4 linked regions of the Homo sapiens genome follow. The protein of the gene in region 3 interacts with the protein of the main gene of each other region in a pairwise test. Each region holds a gene or a part of one and is shown on either strand. Other genes may lie near its edges.

The links. Proteins that work in one complex are often made in the same cells at the same time.
Region 1: the proteins of PRR20A (region 3) and RBFOX1 interact in a two-hybrid assay, tested with the Homo sapiens proteins (one large-scale study listed by BioGRID).
Region 2: the proteins of PRR20A (region 3) and RBM10 interact in binary tests that used the Homo sapiens proteins (3 or more experiments, as listed by UniProt).
Region 4: the proteins of PRR20A (region 3) and ROR2 interact in a two-hybrid assay, tested with the Homo sapiens proteins (2 studies listed by BioGRID).

What each region holds. Positions count from the first base shown.
Region 1 is NC_000016.10:7,575,992-7,579,630, forward strand, and holds part of RBFOX1 (RNA binding protein fox-1 homolog 1), read left to right. Parts: intron 1-3,639. UniProt on the Homo sapiens protein: RNA-binding protein that regulates alternative splicing events by binding to 5'-UGCAUGU-3' elements. Regulates alternative splicing of tissue-specific exons and of differentially spliced exons during erythropoiesis.
Region 2 is NC_000023.11:47,151,689-47,155,327, reverse strand, and holds part of RBM10 (RNA-binding protein 10), read right to left. Parts: intron 1-3,639. UniProt on the Homo sapiens protein: Binds to ssRNA containing the consensus sequence 5'-AGGUAA-3'. May be involved in post-transcriptional processing, most probably in mRNA splicing. Binds to RNA homopolymers, with a preference for poly(G) and poly(U) and little for poly(A).
Region 3 is NC_000013.11:57,139,770-57,143,854, forward strand, and holds the start of PRR20A (proline-rich protein 20A), read left to right. Parts: upstream 1-1,148; 5' UTR 1,149-1,362; intron 1,363-1,516; 5' UTR 1,517-1,535; coding exon 1,536-1,587; intron 1,588-2,608; coding exon 2,609-3,222; 3' UTR 3,223-4,085.
Region 4 is NC_000009.12:91,940,122-91,943,760, reverse strand, and holds part of ROR2 (tyrosine-protein kinase transmembrane receptor ROR2 isoform 1 precursor), read left to right. Parts: intron 1-3,639. UniProt on the Homo sapiens protein: Tyrosine-protein kinase receptor which may be involved in the early formation of the chondrocytes. It seems to be required for cartilage and growth plate development. Phosphorylates YWHAB, leading to induction of osteogenesis and bone formation.

The DNA.
Region 1 (3,639 bases), on a different chromosome or scaffold from region 3:
GGCATGATCTTCCCTCACTGCAGCCTTGATCTCCTGGGCTCCAGCCATCTCCCACCTCGGTCTCCCAAGTAGCTGGGATGGCAGGCACATGGCCATGATCAGCTATTTTTTTTTTTTTTAATTTATTTAGTGGAGACAGGGTCTCACTATGTTGCAGGCTGGTGTCAAATGATCCTCCCACCTTAGCCTGCCAAAGTGCTGGGATTACAGGCATGAGCCACTGCACCTAGCCCCATTACCCCATTAATGTCCTTTGATGGAAAAGTAAAGTGAAGGTCAGAGAAGAAAAGTGACCTGCCTAAGATTAGCAAATAACAGGGATGGTCTGTGTGATTCCAAAACCCTGGTTCATTGTGCTGCATCCCACCATATAAAAGGCATGCAGGCTGAAAGAGATTTCCTTTTTCTGTTGTTTTATTCACTCCTCAACCTCTACTTCCTAACACTCTTCTTTTTCCCTTTCCATACACCCACAATGACCTGAAACACTTTTGGCTTACTTTTTTATTTTGCATGCTTTAAGGATTCTTTTTAATACACAGGTATTTCTCCATAACAGTTTATACGCATTTGTATATAAGCATACACTACAAAATGATTAATTGAGCGTTGTATGTTTTTATCAAAGGAAACAATGCAAAGATTTCTCCAAAGTGCTGTTTGACTAGAGATGATTAATTTTAATTTTCACATGAGCGGTATAATGCTATTAATCATTTAATATGTTTAATCATAATCTCTGTAATTCCTAATTAGGTTCATTAAACTGAAACATCCAGCAGTTATACACAAATCCAAATCTATGTTTCCTTCTCAGGATAAGAAGGAGCTCATTTTGTTTTTGCATTGAAACGGGAACTTCTAACAGGATGGAAGAGAATGGACTGGAAGCTTAGGGTTTCAGCTACAGCATCTGTAAACTCCGAGTCTGGGTGTAGAGTACTAAAACCCCTTAACTTCTGAAAAGTGACAGTTGCAGGATTCGAGCTCATTTCTGTGTCATGGACGTGGCACCAAACCTCGTATTCTCAGCGGAGAAAACGCAAATTCTGCTCTGTTTGGGTTTCAGTGTTACAGTGTTGCTCTTCGACTATCACATGAAGGCGGCGACATTGATTGTACACTTCTTCATGCATTTGTTTATTCGTGTACTAATAATTCATTCGGTCAGTGAGTGAGCCAACTGTTAAACAGACATTTATCATTTGTGTTACAAGCTGGTCATACCACACTCCTGCTGTGACCCTTAGGTGGCTCCTTATTGCTCTTAGGATGAAGCTCAGACTCTTGCTTTGCACAGTGTCCTTTGATCTAGCCCCTTGACTATCTTTGAAACCTGTCCTCCTGCCTTCCCTTCATACATGCCTCATCTGACCAGTGGTGCTGGAGTCCACACATACTCTCCTGAATCCAAGACATCATTTCACATCTCTGCACATCTGCACATGCACTGCCCTGTCTTGGAATAGCCTCAGTCCTTTTCACCTCTTCTCTTAGACATCTCCCACTTAACGTTTAACCTCCAGAATTGGCAAGCCTGGCTGAACCTCCAGCAGTGTCATATGACCTTGATTTAAGGTTACTCAGCCCTTTGTGATTGCCTCTTATCCCAACATTTACCAGTCTCTGGGGATGGTGGCTCACGCCTGTAGTCCCAGTGCTTTGGGAGGCAGAGGCAGAGGCAGGAGGATCACTTGAGGCCAGAGGTTCAAGACCAGCCTGGGCAACTTAGTGTGACCCAGGCTCTGCAAATAAAAATTAGCTGGGTATAATGGCTCATGCCTGTAATCCTAGCTACTTGGAAGGCTGATGTGGCAAGATTGAGCCCAGGATTTCAAGGCTTCAGTGAGCCGTGATTGTGCCATGGCATTCCAGCCTGAGTGACAGAGCAAGACCCAACTCCAAGAAAACAACAACAAAAGACAATGACAAAATGATTCTATTTATGATTGTTTTTCTCTATTGGTGTCATGCACTAAAGTTGGAATTGCATGTGACAAGGAGGGCTGATTTATGTGTCCAACACAAAGCAGTTGCTCAGTAAAGATGTGTAAACACTTTAAAAATAAGCAAATGAAAACCTTTCCTTCGTGTTTCTCAAAGGAGGTTTATTTCTCTTTTTGGTATTTAAAAAACTTGCCATCATTCTAAACATTTCGTCACTTTCCATTTATTGAATACATACCAGGAACTTGGCCAAGTTAGCACACATTAATCAATCACAAAGCCTCAAAAGGTATGAACTCATTATTCTTTATTTACCAGTTAAGAAAATGACCACTGTACTGCTTCCTATTCAATCCAACAGTATAGGCAAAATGACTAAATACATTGTCTAAATACATGACTTGCACTTAAAAGCTGAAGTCAACTGGTAGGTCTTTTGATACCAGAGCATCTTGGAAGAATGGTTTGCCAGCTAACAAGATGTCTTTATTTCAAAATGCGATTCAGGGTGTGTTAGGAAGGAAAATGCAAATGAAACCTTCCAGTACATACCAGGGCTGATGAGAAACTTGCTAATTATGCCCATGTTATCTGAGTGTTTGTTTTGTATTTCACTTTGTAAGATTGTCTTCTCTCGGTCGTTATTATTTTACACCTGGCTGCCTACATTGATAGTTTTGTCCCAATTATGTACTTCTAGATTGCTTATAAACAGGTCAGGATGATTCCTCACTCATAAATTTGATAGGCTTCTGTGTAAGCTTTCTATCATAGTTTCAAAGTTGGTATCTGATGTGGATGGCATTTACTGCCAGCTGGAGGCAATAGTTGCTAATTGCAGAGAAGTATCAAATGCTAAATGTCTGAAATGTTAAAACTCTAGAACCGAGAGTATGGCAGTGGCTATAATGATACCTAATGTGACTGTGACTTTTCCCCTCGTTCCTGCCAAATATGTGGGTGTCAATGTAACGTCATGTTATACAGCCTTATTTGGAAGACAGGGGAGGTGAAACAATCAGTTATGCTGATGATGTTACATGGTCTAGGCAAACAGAGCACAACAGCACTTTCTGCAGAGATGGAAACGTTCTGTATTTGCATTATTCAGTATGGAAGCAATAACTACATGTGGTTCTTGAGCGCTTGAAATGCAGCTAATGCAAACAAAGTTAAATATCTTGTTTTAATTCAGTTAAATGTAAATTGTCACATGTGGTCAACTGTAGTGGACAGCAAAAGTTTGTACAATTAGAACCTCAAAAGAATAAGTCAATCAGCTGGTTATTTGAACTCCAGAATGCCAACTAGTCTTTTCACATTTTTTACATTTAATTATGTTTTATCTGCACAATTACCTGAACAATTATGTAGGCATATCTTCAGATTCTGAACAGCGTCGGTTAAGAAATACACACTGTCCTGCCTTTAAAGATTATTACCCCCTTCTTGATGAGGTTCTCGCTCCCCACCTCCCAACCCCAGCAGCTCCCAGTCCCCTTCCTTTGCTTTTTCTAGCCTATAGTGCTTTTCTCTGTCTGCCAACACTCTATCTATGGATTTATTGTCTGTGTTGCCCTCATGAGAATGATGCTCCCTGAGGGCAGGGATTTTTGTCTGCTTTTCCCACTGCCTAATCCCAGATTCATAATGAGCACCCAGTGGACGCTCAGAAAACACTTGCTGAATGAA
Region 2 (3,639 bases), on a different chromosome or scaffold from region 3:
TGACTTCCATTTTTTTAAACAATTATTTGTTCATGCATTCATTCAACAAATATTAACCTAACATTGGCTATACGATAAGTACTGTTCTAGGTAATGGGGATACTGCTGTGAACAAAATAAAGTCCCTGTCCCCACGAACTCAGCTTGGAACCCAAACTCTTTTTTTTTTTTTTTTTTTTTTGAGAGGGAGTCTCGCACTGTCCTCCGGGCTGGAGTGCAGTGGCGTGATCTTGGCTCACTGCAACTTCCACCTCCTGGGTTCAAGCGATTGTCCTTCCTCAGCCTCCCGAGTAGCTGGGATTACAGGTGCCTGCCACCACACCCAGCTAATTTTTTGTATTTTTAGTAGAGATGGGGTTTCATCATGTTGGCCAGGCTGGTCCCAAACTCCTGACCTCGTGATTCACCCGCCTCGGCCTCCCAAAGTGCTGGGATTACAGGCGTGAGCCACCACACCTGGCCCCAAATTGTTTCCCTACCGTAAATGCCTAGAGAAGAAATCACTGTCAGTGGTATGAGTAGTTATAAGGTTCTTGATACAATCAATTTGAACTGTAGTCATCAAAATTCAAGAACTGGGCCATCATGGTGGCTCACACCTGTAATCCCAGCACTTTCGGAGGCTGAAGCGAGTGGATCACCTGAGGTACGGAGTTCGAGACCAGTCTGGCAAACATGGTGAAACCCCGTCTCTACTAAAATACAAAAATTAGCCGGGTGTGGTGGCACGGGCCTGTAATCCTTGCTACTCAGGAAGCTGAGGCACAAGAATCCCCTGAGCCTGGAAAGCAGAGGTTGCGGTGAGCCAAGATCGCACCACTGAACTCCAGCCTGGAAGACAGAGTGAGACTATCTCCACAAACAAAAACAAACAAACAAACAAACAAAAAAAAAAGGAAAAAAAATCAAGAACTGAACAGATATGAATAAATTTATAAATTTTCAGATGAAATTATCCTGAACTCTCTTGACATCCAATATCCAAACCAAATAAATTCAGGTATTGAACTCTTGCTATCTAAACTCAGGAAGGGAACATATTTGGATAGAAAGGAATATTTTTAATTGGCCACCAAAGCACTCTGAACAAACACCTTCCAAAGGCATATCCCTTTTATAAAGCATTTCTAGGATGCTGGACTGAATCATCATATATGAGGATCTTCACAAAATGAGTATATTTCTAGAAAATATAAAATGCTAAAATTGGCAGAAGAGATGAAATGGTAATCAAAAACCAGCTCCAGATGCTTTTATTTTATTATTTTTTGAGACAGGGTGTCACTCTGTCACTGAGGCTGGAGTGCAGTGGCATGATCATGGCTTACCACAGTCTCAACCTCCCAGACTCAGGTAATCCTCCTGCCTCAGCCTCCTGAGTAGTTAGAACTATAGGCACCTGCCACCACGCCCAGCTAATTTTTGTATTTTTTGTAGAGACAGAGTTTCGCCATGTTGCCCAGGATCGTCTCGAATTCCTGGGTTCAAGTGATCCAACTGCCTCAGCCCACTGCGCCCAGCCTCCAGATGCTTTTAAAGGTGAGTCCTACCAAGTTTTTCGAGGTACAGATAATTCTTATACAAGTTTCTCCAATAAAGAGAGAATAACAAAGGCTGCCCAATTCATGTAATGAGGCTACCTTGATTCCAATGCCAGATAAATACTGAAAATAAAAATATTGGACTACCTCACTGATAAATACAGGTGTAGATATCCTAGATGATACAATGGCTAATAAAATCTAACAAGGTTTTAAAAATATACATAAATCACTTAAATAACATTTCTGCCAAAAACTCATGAGTAAGCATCAGAAAAATCCAAACTGAGAAACATTCTATAAAACAACTAACTTTAAAACATGCTTTCAATATAATCCATAGGTTCAGGAAAAAAAAAAATGACAAGGTCATAAAAGACAAAGATAGAATAACTGTTTCAGATTAAAGGAGACAAGGAGCTCAATGCAATACATGATCTTGGACTGGATCCTGGATTGGGGAAAACCATTATAAAGGACATTATTGAGAAGAGTGATAACATCTGAATATGGGCTTTATATAGAATAAAAGTACTATATAATTGTTTAATTTCCTGATATTGATAAGTATATTGTGGTTATGGAAGAGAACACCTTTGTTCTTAAGACGTACATGCTGCCAGACTTAAAAGGTCATGTCAGGCTGGATGTGGTGGCTCATGCCTGTAATCCCAGCACTTTGGGAGGCCGAGATGGGCGGATCACCTGAGGTCGGGAGTTTGAAACCAGCCTGATCAACATGGAAAAATCCTGTCTCTACTAAAAATACAAAATTAGCTGGGTGTGGTGACGCATGCCTGTAATCCCAGCTACTTGGGAGACTGAGGCAGGAGAATCGCTTGAATGCAGGAGGAAGAGGTTGCAGTGGGCCGAGATTGCACCATTGCACTCCAGCCTGGGCAACAAGAGTGAAACTCTGACTCAAAAAGAAAAGTCATGGCTGCCACCAACTCAAACGATTAAAAAAAACGTGTGTGTGTGTGTGTGTGTGTGTGTGTGTGTGTGTGTGTGTCTATGTAAAGATATAGAGCTATAGGGTGGGCCAGGCGCGGTAGCTCACGCCTGTAATTCCAGCACTTTGGGAAGCTGAGGCAGGTGGATCACCTGAGGTCAGGAGTTTGAGACCAACCTGACCAACATGGTGAAACCTCGTTTCTAATAAAAATACAAAAATTAGCCAGGCGTACTGGCAGGCGCGTGTAATCCCAGCTACTTGGAAGGCTGAGGCAGGAGAATTGCTTGAACACAGGAGGCGGAGGTTGCAGTGAGCCAAGATCACGCCATTGCACTCCAGCCTGGGTGACAGAGTGATTCCGTCTCAAAAAAAAAAAAAAAAAAAAAAAAAGATATAGAGTGATAGAGCAAATGTGGCAAAATACTTAAAACAAGTAATTCTGAGTAGAGGATATATGGGAATTCATTATACTTTTTCTTGCAACCTTTCTGTAAATTTGAGATATTTTCAAAGTAAGAAGTCATAAACATATACATACATACCATGATCAAGTGGGGTATAGCTCAAGAATGCCAAGGATATCATTTAATGCAATTTACAAAATTTTTATTTATTTTTTTGATATGGAGTCTCACTCTGTTGCCCAGGATGGAGTGCAGTGGCACGATCTCAGCTTATTGCAACCTCCACCTCCCAGGTTCAAGCGATTCTCATGTCTCAGTCTCCCCAGTAGCTGGGATTACAGACATGCTTCACCACGCCTGGCTGATTTTTTTATTTTTAGTAGAAATGAGGTTTCACCATGTTGGCCAGGCTGGTCTTGAACTCCTGGCCTCAAGCGATCCAACCACCTTGGCCTCCCAAGGTGCTGTGATCCACCATGCCAGGCCACAATTTATGAAATTAATGGACAAAGGGAGAAAAAAAGCACAGGATTTTGAAGTTCAATACTTATTTATGGTCAATCTTAGCAAACGAAGATTAGATAATTTTCTTGATTTATTAAAGGATACATTCTAAAAACTTACTGCATGCACCATACTTAATGGAGAAACTTTAGACACATTCCCTTTTATTCCTCTCCCTTCTTCCTACTGTCTCAACTGCCATGTGCTGAGGATGGCTACACAGAAGGGGCTGCCT
Region 3 (4,085 bases):
CATCCCACAATATATCTGATCAGTATTCAAAGTGTCAGAGTCATCAAAAACAAGGCAAGTGTGAGAAACCGTCGCAGCCAAGGGGAACCGTGACGAGTTGTAAGGTGGTACCCTGGATGGGGTCTTGGGACAGAAAAGGTATGTGAGGTGAAAGCATAGCAAAACCTCACTTCAACAGGAAATACAACCCAAAAAAGTAATTGGCCCGGCATGGTGGCTTGCGCCTGGGGTCCCAGCGACTCGGGAGGTTGAGCGGGACGGACGGCTTGAGCTCAGGCCTTCCAAACAAGCCTGGGCACATAGCGAAAACTCGTCTCTCCAAAAAAATCCGAAAATTATCCCGATGTGGTGGCGCTCACCTGTAGTCCAGCTACTCCGGAGGCCGAGACAGGAGAATCACTTGAACTGATTCTCCTATCTCAGCCACCCCCCCCCAACCCCCCCAAGTAGCCGCAGCGAGCCGAGATGGCACCGCTGCACTCCAGCCTGGGCTACAGAGCGAGAACCAGTCTCTGTAAAAAACACAAGGATGCAAACCAACCAAATAACCCACTGTGGGATCCCCTCCAGCGTCCTGCTGTGTTTCCCGCTGTCTTCCTCCACCCGTGAGTGCACCCACAGCAATAAAAGCCAGCGGTGTGGGTCTCACACGCATCTCCAGCCCCGTCTCACACGCACCACCTCCGGGCCTGGACTTGGCCTCCCGTCCATTCCCAGAATGTGCCGGGCTCCCTTCCAGTCCGGGCCTCAGCACACTCTCTTCACTCCCCTTCCTCCCTCCCTGCCTCTCCCAACCCGGTTCAGGATGACTAATTTCAAACGTTATGTTCCAGATTTCAGCCCAGATATCCCCGCTTTGGATGCTTTCCTTGACCATGCTCAGATCTAAGCTAATCGCATCTTCCTGTCAGCCGCTTTCAGGGCACCACACCTCATTGTGCTGACACTCAGAGGTCATTATGCAATTTTTTTTCCTCGATGATTAGATTAATCAATCAACCACGGACGTCTAGAAATGGCGGCATCTCAGAAGGGCCCCCATTTGACTGGCAGGGGACTGGCCCAATGCGCCTCGCAAGCCCAGCCAGGCCCGCCCCAGCCGGCCCCCCTCTGACGACGCCTGTCCCTTACGCGACTGCCTTGCTGCCATATAAGAGGGACGGCGCTCGGCCTCCAGCAGTCGGCTTTCTGCTGGGCTCGGAGCCAGAACCTGCTGCGTGCTCCCTCCAGACTCCCTGGCTGCGGGTGGACTACCTCAGAGCTACAGCGGTGAACCTGTGGACACCTCCGACTCCTCGGGCCTCTCTTCGTCGAAGAGTCTCCTAATTTTCAGATCTCCGGAGCCAGCTGTGGGAAGATCAGGTGTGTGTCTGGGGGTCCCGGAGGCGTGGACGGATCTCGGGTGGGTGCAGTTGGGGACAGAATCCTCATTCCCCTAGAAAGGCCACGGCCATCCCCCTGCCTTGTCACCTCTGTCTTCCTAAATCCGTTCTTGCTCTCTTGTTTTTCTCCCCAGCCCCTCCCGCCGATTGCTCATGGAGGAACCAAGGCCTTCGAAGCGACTTCGCTCCATGGCCCCTAATCAAGGTACATCAAACGCCTGCCACTCCTCTCTTTTTAATTTCGTCTGTTCCCCAATTCTTCCCCAATGGTTGACACTCAAACTCAATCAAGCATTCTCTGTTTCACCTTCTCCTAGCCTGCCTCAACCTGGGCTGCTTGTTGGAAGTCAGCTCCCGGGTTCCACATCATCTGGGAAATTCCTTTCCCTCTTCCGAACCGTAATCCCATTTCCCAAATCTGAGATTTGCTGTTGTTGTCGCTGTTTCCTTCTGTTTAGTTTTGTATTACTGTTTCTCCGTAGCAGAGCGAGTCCTCACGCTACGTCTTGATCTATGATAAACCGGTACTTCCACCTTGTTCTTTCCCGGAGGAGTTGGAATTTTCCGGCTGTTGCCACGTTGTTCTCCAAAACTTTTCCCTTCATACGCTGAGTGTCCTAAATCTTTTAATCTTGTCTAGTTTGACAGATGCATAACAATAAAGCATCCACTGAAAGGAAATTCTTTAACATCTTGCTTGTCTGAAACATCTTCATTCTCCCCTCCCAGATTCTTCAGCGAAACTTCGGTTGGACAGGAAATTTTAGGTGGGAAATTCATTTCCCTTGAAATTTCGAAGACATTTTCTGTTATGTTCTAGACTGAACTGCTGCTTTTGAGATGTCTGACTTTTGAGACATGTGGAATCCTAGCCCTTTCCATGTGACTTTTCCTTTCTCTGTCTCCCGCTCTCTAGAATCTGTTAGAATCTTCTCTTTTTCCTCAGCACTCTGAAATTTTCTGGTGAAATGTCTCAGCCACAGCATACCTCTAATTCTCTTATATTTCATCCTTCTTTCCATCATTTTAGGTTTTTGCTTTGTTCTGTGGGAGACCTTCTCAACTTCATTCTCCAACTTCCGTGGAGAGTTTTGTTTCTTCTCTCACAATTTTAACTTCAGAAATCCCTCTTTTCTCTGAGTATTTATTTGTAAAAGTATCCTATAACTGCTTGACGGGTGAAGTTCCTTCTGTCTCTCTCTGCTCACGCTCCGCTTCTCTTTTAGCCTCAGGTGGGCCTCCTCCAGAGCCAGGCTGCTGTGTTGCGGACCCTGAAGGCTCCGTGGAAGCAGATGGGCCCGCACAGCCAGCCCAACCCGCAAAACCCATCGCTTACGTGAAACCCTTCAGACGGCAGCCCCCAGCTCGCCCAGAGTCACCCCCTCCTGCAGAGAGAGGCCGGCGCCGGGGAGGAAGCCGGCGGCCAGGGCGAGGCCGTGGCAGAAGGGCTGGGCCCCGCGGGGACGCTGGCCAGAGACAGGGGGCAGAAGGCTTGATGGCACCGGACGTGCACATCCAACTGGACCACCATGGAGAGCCAGGCCACCAGGGGGAACCGGAAATCACGGAGACCGCAGCCTTCTCCCTTTCTGAAACAGGTCCTCCGCCTGGAACTGTGCAGGAAGGCCCTGGCCCCGACGTGGCGCAACCTGAGCTGGGGTTTCAGGAGCCGCCCGCTGCTCCTGGGCCTCAGGCTGTTGACTGGCAACCCGTCTTGACCCTCTATCCCTGCATCGGGTTTAGGGCTCTGGGTGACTCAGCGGTTTTACAAGTCATTCAAACCCCCCAGGGCACCTACGTGCAAGGGGTCCCAGTGTTCCTCACCGACATTGCGTATTGACCACTATCTGCCACCCACGTTGTTCCCAGCCTCCCTTCCTTCCACCTGGACGTTCCCCCCAGCCCCACTTCTGCTCCACTCCTCCCCCGACTGGACCTGAAGCCTGAGCTTCCCCTGAACTTGGAGTACGCAACTTACAACATGCAAGCTGCCAAACACCCTTTCTGTACAAGGCGATTGGAATGGAACTGTCATGTACAGTGAAAGTACACGTCACGTTTTTCAGCCAAGAAGAAGCCAACCCAGACAACCTGGAAGAAGTGGGATGCAACAAGGATCACTAAGCATGGAAATTAGGAAACTGTATTCTTAAGTCCAGAGAAGTACGATTCTGGAAAAAGGATTGATGACCTAGAATTAAAATTCCAGAAGACACTCATATAGACATGTGGGACATGCGAAAACTCAGAAGGAGCTAGAAGTTACTAAAGTGCTTCTCTAGTGCCTGGAGACGATAGACTGGCTGAATATAAGAGCAATAAAAATCTAGACTGACACATTTTTAAGTCTCAACGTGGGTACCCTTTGGGAACCACTAAATGAATTGGAATAGAAGGTAAAATTTCAAACAGATTGAGGAAAAAGGGGATCAAAGGACATGTGACGAATCAGACAAAAGGTGTTGGGGTGGGGGGGGGGGCGGTTAACGGAAGCAAGGAGAGTGCATGACTCACTGGAACCGCTAAACCAGGAATCAGTAATTTGACGGCAGTGTCCTTGGCTTCCTCCTGGCTTTAATGGGAATATTTTGAATGTTTCACCATTAACCAAGATGTTGGCTGTAGGTGTCTCTTAGATGTTTAAGTTGAGTTAGTTCCCATCTTTTCAGAGTTTGATAAATGTTGTATTATGAACTTTTGTAT
Region 4 (3,639 bases), on a different chromosome or scaffold from region 3:
AATGCAAATGTGTTGCAAATGAGTAACATGACTACACAGATGGGGGAAAAGAAACCGTAATGTTGGACTCAGTGCTTTGACGGTGTATCCTCAGCCTACAGGAGAAACAACAACCTGAAAGCAAAACTGGCACCCTTCTTAGTAGGTTTGATTTTCATAGTGGTGTGGGTATATCCATTCTGAAATGACTTTGTGTGAATTGTGAGATTAGACAGATAAGAAGTGTGTTAATAGTGTTGTAGCCAGGGTGCTCACTGAGGAAGGAGGGAGATATAAGGATGGAATAGGGGAAGGCAAGGAAGAATCTGGAGGGGTTGAATTGGAATTGGAGGTATCAGTGTAACTCATGCTTTCATTTATATATATATTTGGTATATATTATGTTAAATTATGCACCGTAATTTGTAAAACATACTCTACACATAACAGTTATTTCTTAGCACCTCATTAGCAGTGAGCTTTCTTAGTGCCCAGATGTTGGTTTCTCAATACTGTTGCATCTTAAAGGAGCTAGAGAACCTTGGAGAAATGACTGAATATGGGATGGGGACAGGGAAAAATACACAATAAGCCTGAAACGTGTTCTTGTGTTAGAACGCAAGTGAGTGGTGAAAAGTGGTGGGGGCATGGCAGATGTACTCAGGGGCCAACTTGAAGGAGTTGCAGCCAAGTCTGGGACCATTTAGGCATCAGAATAAATAAAGACAAGCATGGATTATACAAGGAACAAAATAGGCATCCAGGACTCACCATTGATAATAAGTACATAACTATATGTATGAGTTTCTTAGGCCTGCTGTAGCAAAATGCCATAAACGGGGTGACCTAAAAACCAGAAATGTATTCTCCCACAGTTTTAGAGGCTAGAAGTCCAAAATCAAGGTGGCGGCAGGGCCACGATCCCTCCCAGGGCTCTAGGGGAGAAAACTTTTTTGCCTCTTTTAGTTCCTGGTGGCTCATGGTGCCCTTGGTTTGGAGCTATATCACTTTGACTTCTATCGCCATTTTCACATGACCTTTTATTGTAAGGACACCAGTGATTGGATTTAGGGACCACTGTAAATACAGGATGATTTAATCTCATGTTCCTTATTACTACTGGAAAGACTATTTCCAAATAAGGTCACTTTCTGAGCTTCTGGGTGGATAGGGAAACACTAATTTACTACAAAACCTAAGTGGGAGGGGTGGGGAAGAGAGGGCACTTCCTAGAGCAAAGTGCCAACTGATAAATGGGAGGCGAGTTGGGAATAATCACATTTTACAGCAATAACTGTACGGATTGATTTGGGCAGGCGTCATGAATGAGTGCTAAACTCATTAAAGAAGACATGTTTGATGAGGAGCAGGAAATGTCTGTGGTCTCAAAGGATTTCCCCACAGATTCCTTGTTGGCAAGGGACAGTTGCTAACTGTAGACTGGCGAGATTTGCATCCCAATACCTGGGTGGTCCAGGTTAATGCCACAGATTTGGGCAGATGGATGCCGTCCTTCCCAAGAGCATACATCATTTAGGTTGCTTTCTATCTGGGGAAGAGAGTCTGATTATGAGCAAAAATCAGCAAACGAAATGGAGGGACATTCTATGAAACAATGGTCTGTAGCAAAAATTGTCGAGGACATGAGCGATGAAACAGGGCAGGCCAGGTCCAGCTTGAAGAAGACCACAGGGGCCTGGTGTGGTGGCTCACGCCTGTAATCCTAGCACTTTGGGAGGCTGAGGCCAGCGGATCACAAGGTCAGGAATTCAAGACCAGCCTGGCCAACATGGTGAAACCTCGTCCTCACTAAAAATACAAAAGTTAGCCGGGCGTGGTGACATGTGCCTGTAATTCCAGCTACTAGGGAGGCTGAAGCAGGAGAATCACTTGAACCCGGGAGGTGGAGGCTGCAGTGAGCCGAGATCGTGCCACTACACTCCAGTCTGGGCAGCAGAGCAACACCCTGTCTCAAAAATGAAAGAGAAGAGAAGAGAAGAGAAAGGAGGGCAGGGCGGGGCTGGGCGGGGTGGGGAGACAGTACAATACAGTACACCACAGGGTAGGTAGAGAAGACAGTACAATACAATACACCACAGGGACAAGGCAGTCCAGTGCATGTGCTGGCCCTGACCCTGTGCTGGAGGGAAAAACATGCTGTCGTGGATACTAACGGAACCACTGAGGAAATTGGAAGGTGAGCGTAAGTTATTTAAACGTGTTGTCAGACTTGTCTTTCCTGAGTTTGTTAATTGTGCAGAGGTGGTGTAAGAGGATGTCTGTACTCATAGGACATACACGCTGCCATGTTAAAGGATAAAGGGGCTTGATGTCTCCAGCCTACTATTGTCATCTCAGACCATGATAAAGCCCATGGGGCAAGAGTGACACATTAGTGAACCTGGGCAAAGAGTAGAGGGAAGTTTCATGCACCATTCTTGTAACTTCTCTGTAAAGGCGAAATGGTTTCAAAGTAAAGAATTAAGGCCGGGCACGGTGGCTCACGCCTGTAATCCCAGCACTTCTGGAGGCTGAGGCGGGGGGATCACGAGGTCAGCAGATCGAGACCATCTTGGCTAACACGGTGAAACCCCGTCTCTACTAAAAATACAAAAAATTAGCTGGGCACGGTGGTGGGCGCCTGTAGTCCCAGCTACTTGGGAGGCTGAGGCAGGAGAATGGTGTGAACCCAGGAGGCGGAGCTTGCAGTGAGCCGAGATAGCGCCATGGCAGTCTGGCCTGGGTGAAAGAGCGAGACTCCATCTCAAAAAAAAAAAAAAAAAAAAGAATTAAAAATGTTAAATTCTAACAATGGATGGCTGAAGCCAGTGCAATGAACAATGGAGTTTAGCACATGCTGTTAAAAGAAAGACTCAAGGCCCGGCGAGGTGGTGGCTCACGCCTGTAATCCCAGCACTTTGGGAGGCTGAGGAAGGTGAATCACCTGAGGTCAGGGGTTCAAGACCAGCCTGTCCAAAATGGTGAAACCCCATCTCTACTAAAAATACAAAAATTAGCCGGGGGTGGGGGCTGGGTGCCTGTAATCCCAACTACTCGGGAGGCCGAGACAGAGACAGGAGGATCACTTGGACCCAGGAGGCAGAGGTCACAGTGAGCGGAGATCGAGCCACTGCACTCTAGCCTGGGTGACAGAGCAAGACTCTGTCTCAAGAAAAAAAAAAAAAAAGAATTGCACGTTATGATTTTATTGGAAATGGTGTCACAGGGACTGAGGATGGATGCGATCCAGGTGCTTTTGAGGCCAGACAGCATTTCATTGAAGGGACTGAAAATCTCTGTCTTTGTCTAGTTTCTGGATTGCCCCAAGTTTTCTGATTTTTCTTTCTTAAGATTTTTATTATAGAAATTCCAACACACATAAAATTAGACGACTGCAGTGAACCGCTGTATATTTTTCACTCAGCTTCAACAGTTGCCACGTTCATTTCGTTTCATTTCCCCCGGCCTACTTAACAGTCCCCAGACAGCCTTAATTGTTTACCTGAAAATACTTCAGCATGAATGGTAAGAACTGTTTTTTTCACACCATCTCAATACTGTTATCAACAAGGAGCCCTGGTGTTGTCTGATACCCAGCCCTGCTGGAAATGGCCTTTCACACTTGATTTGCGCACAGCGGGGCTGAGTTGCCATGAATGC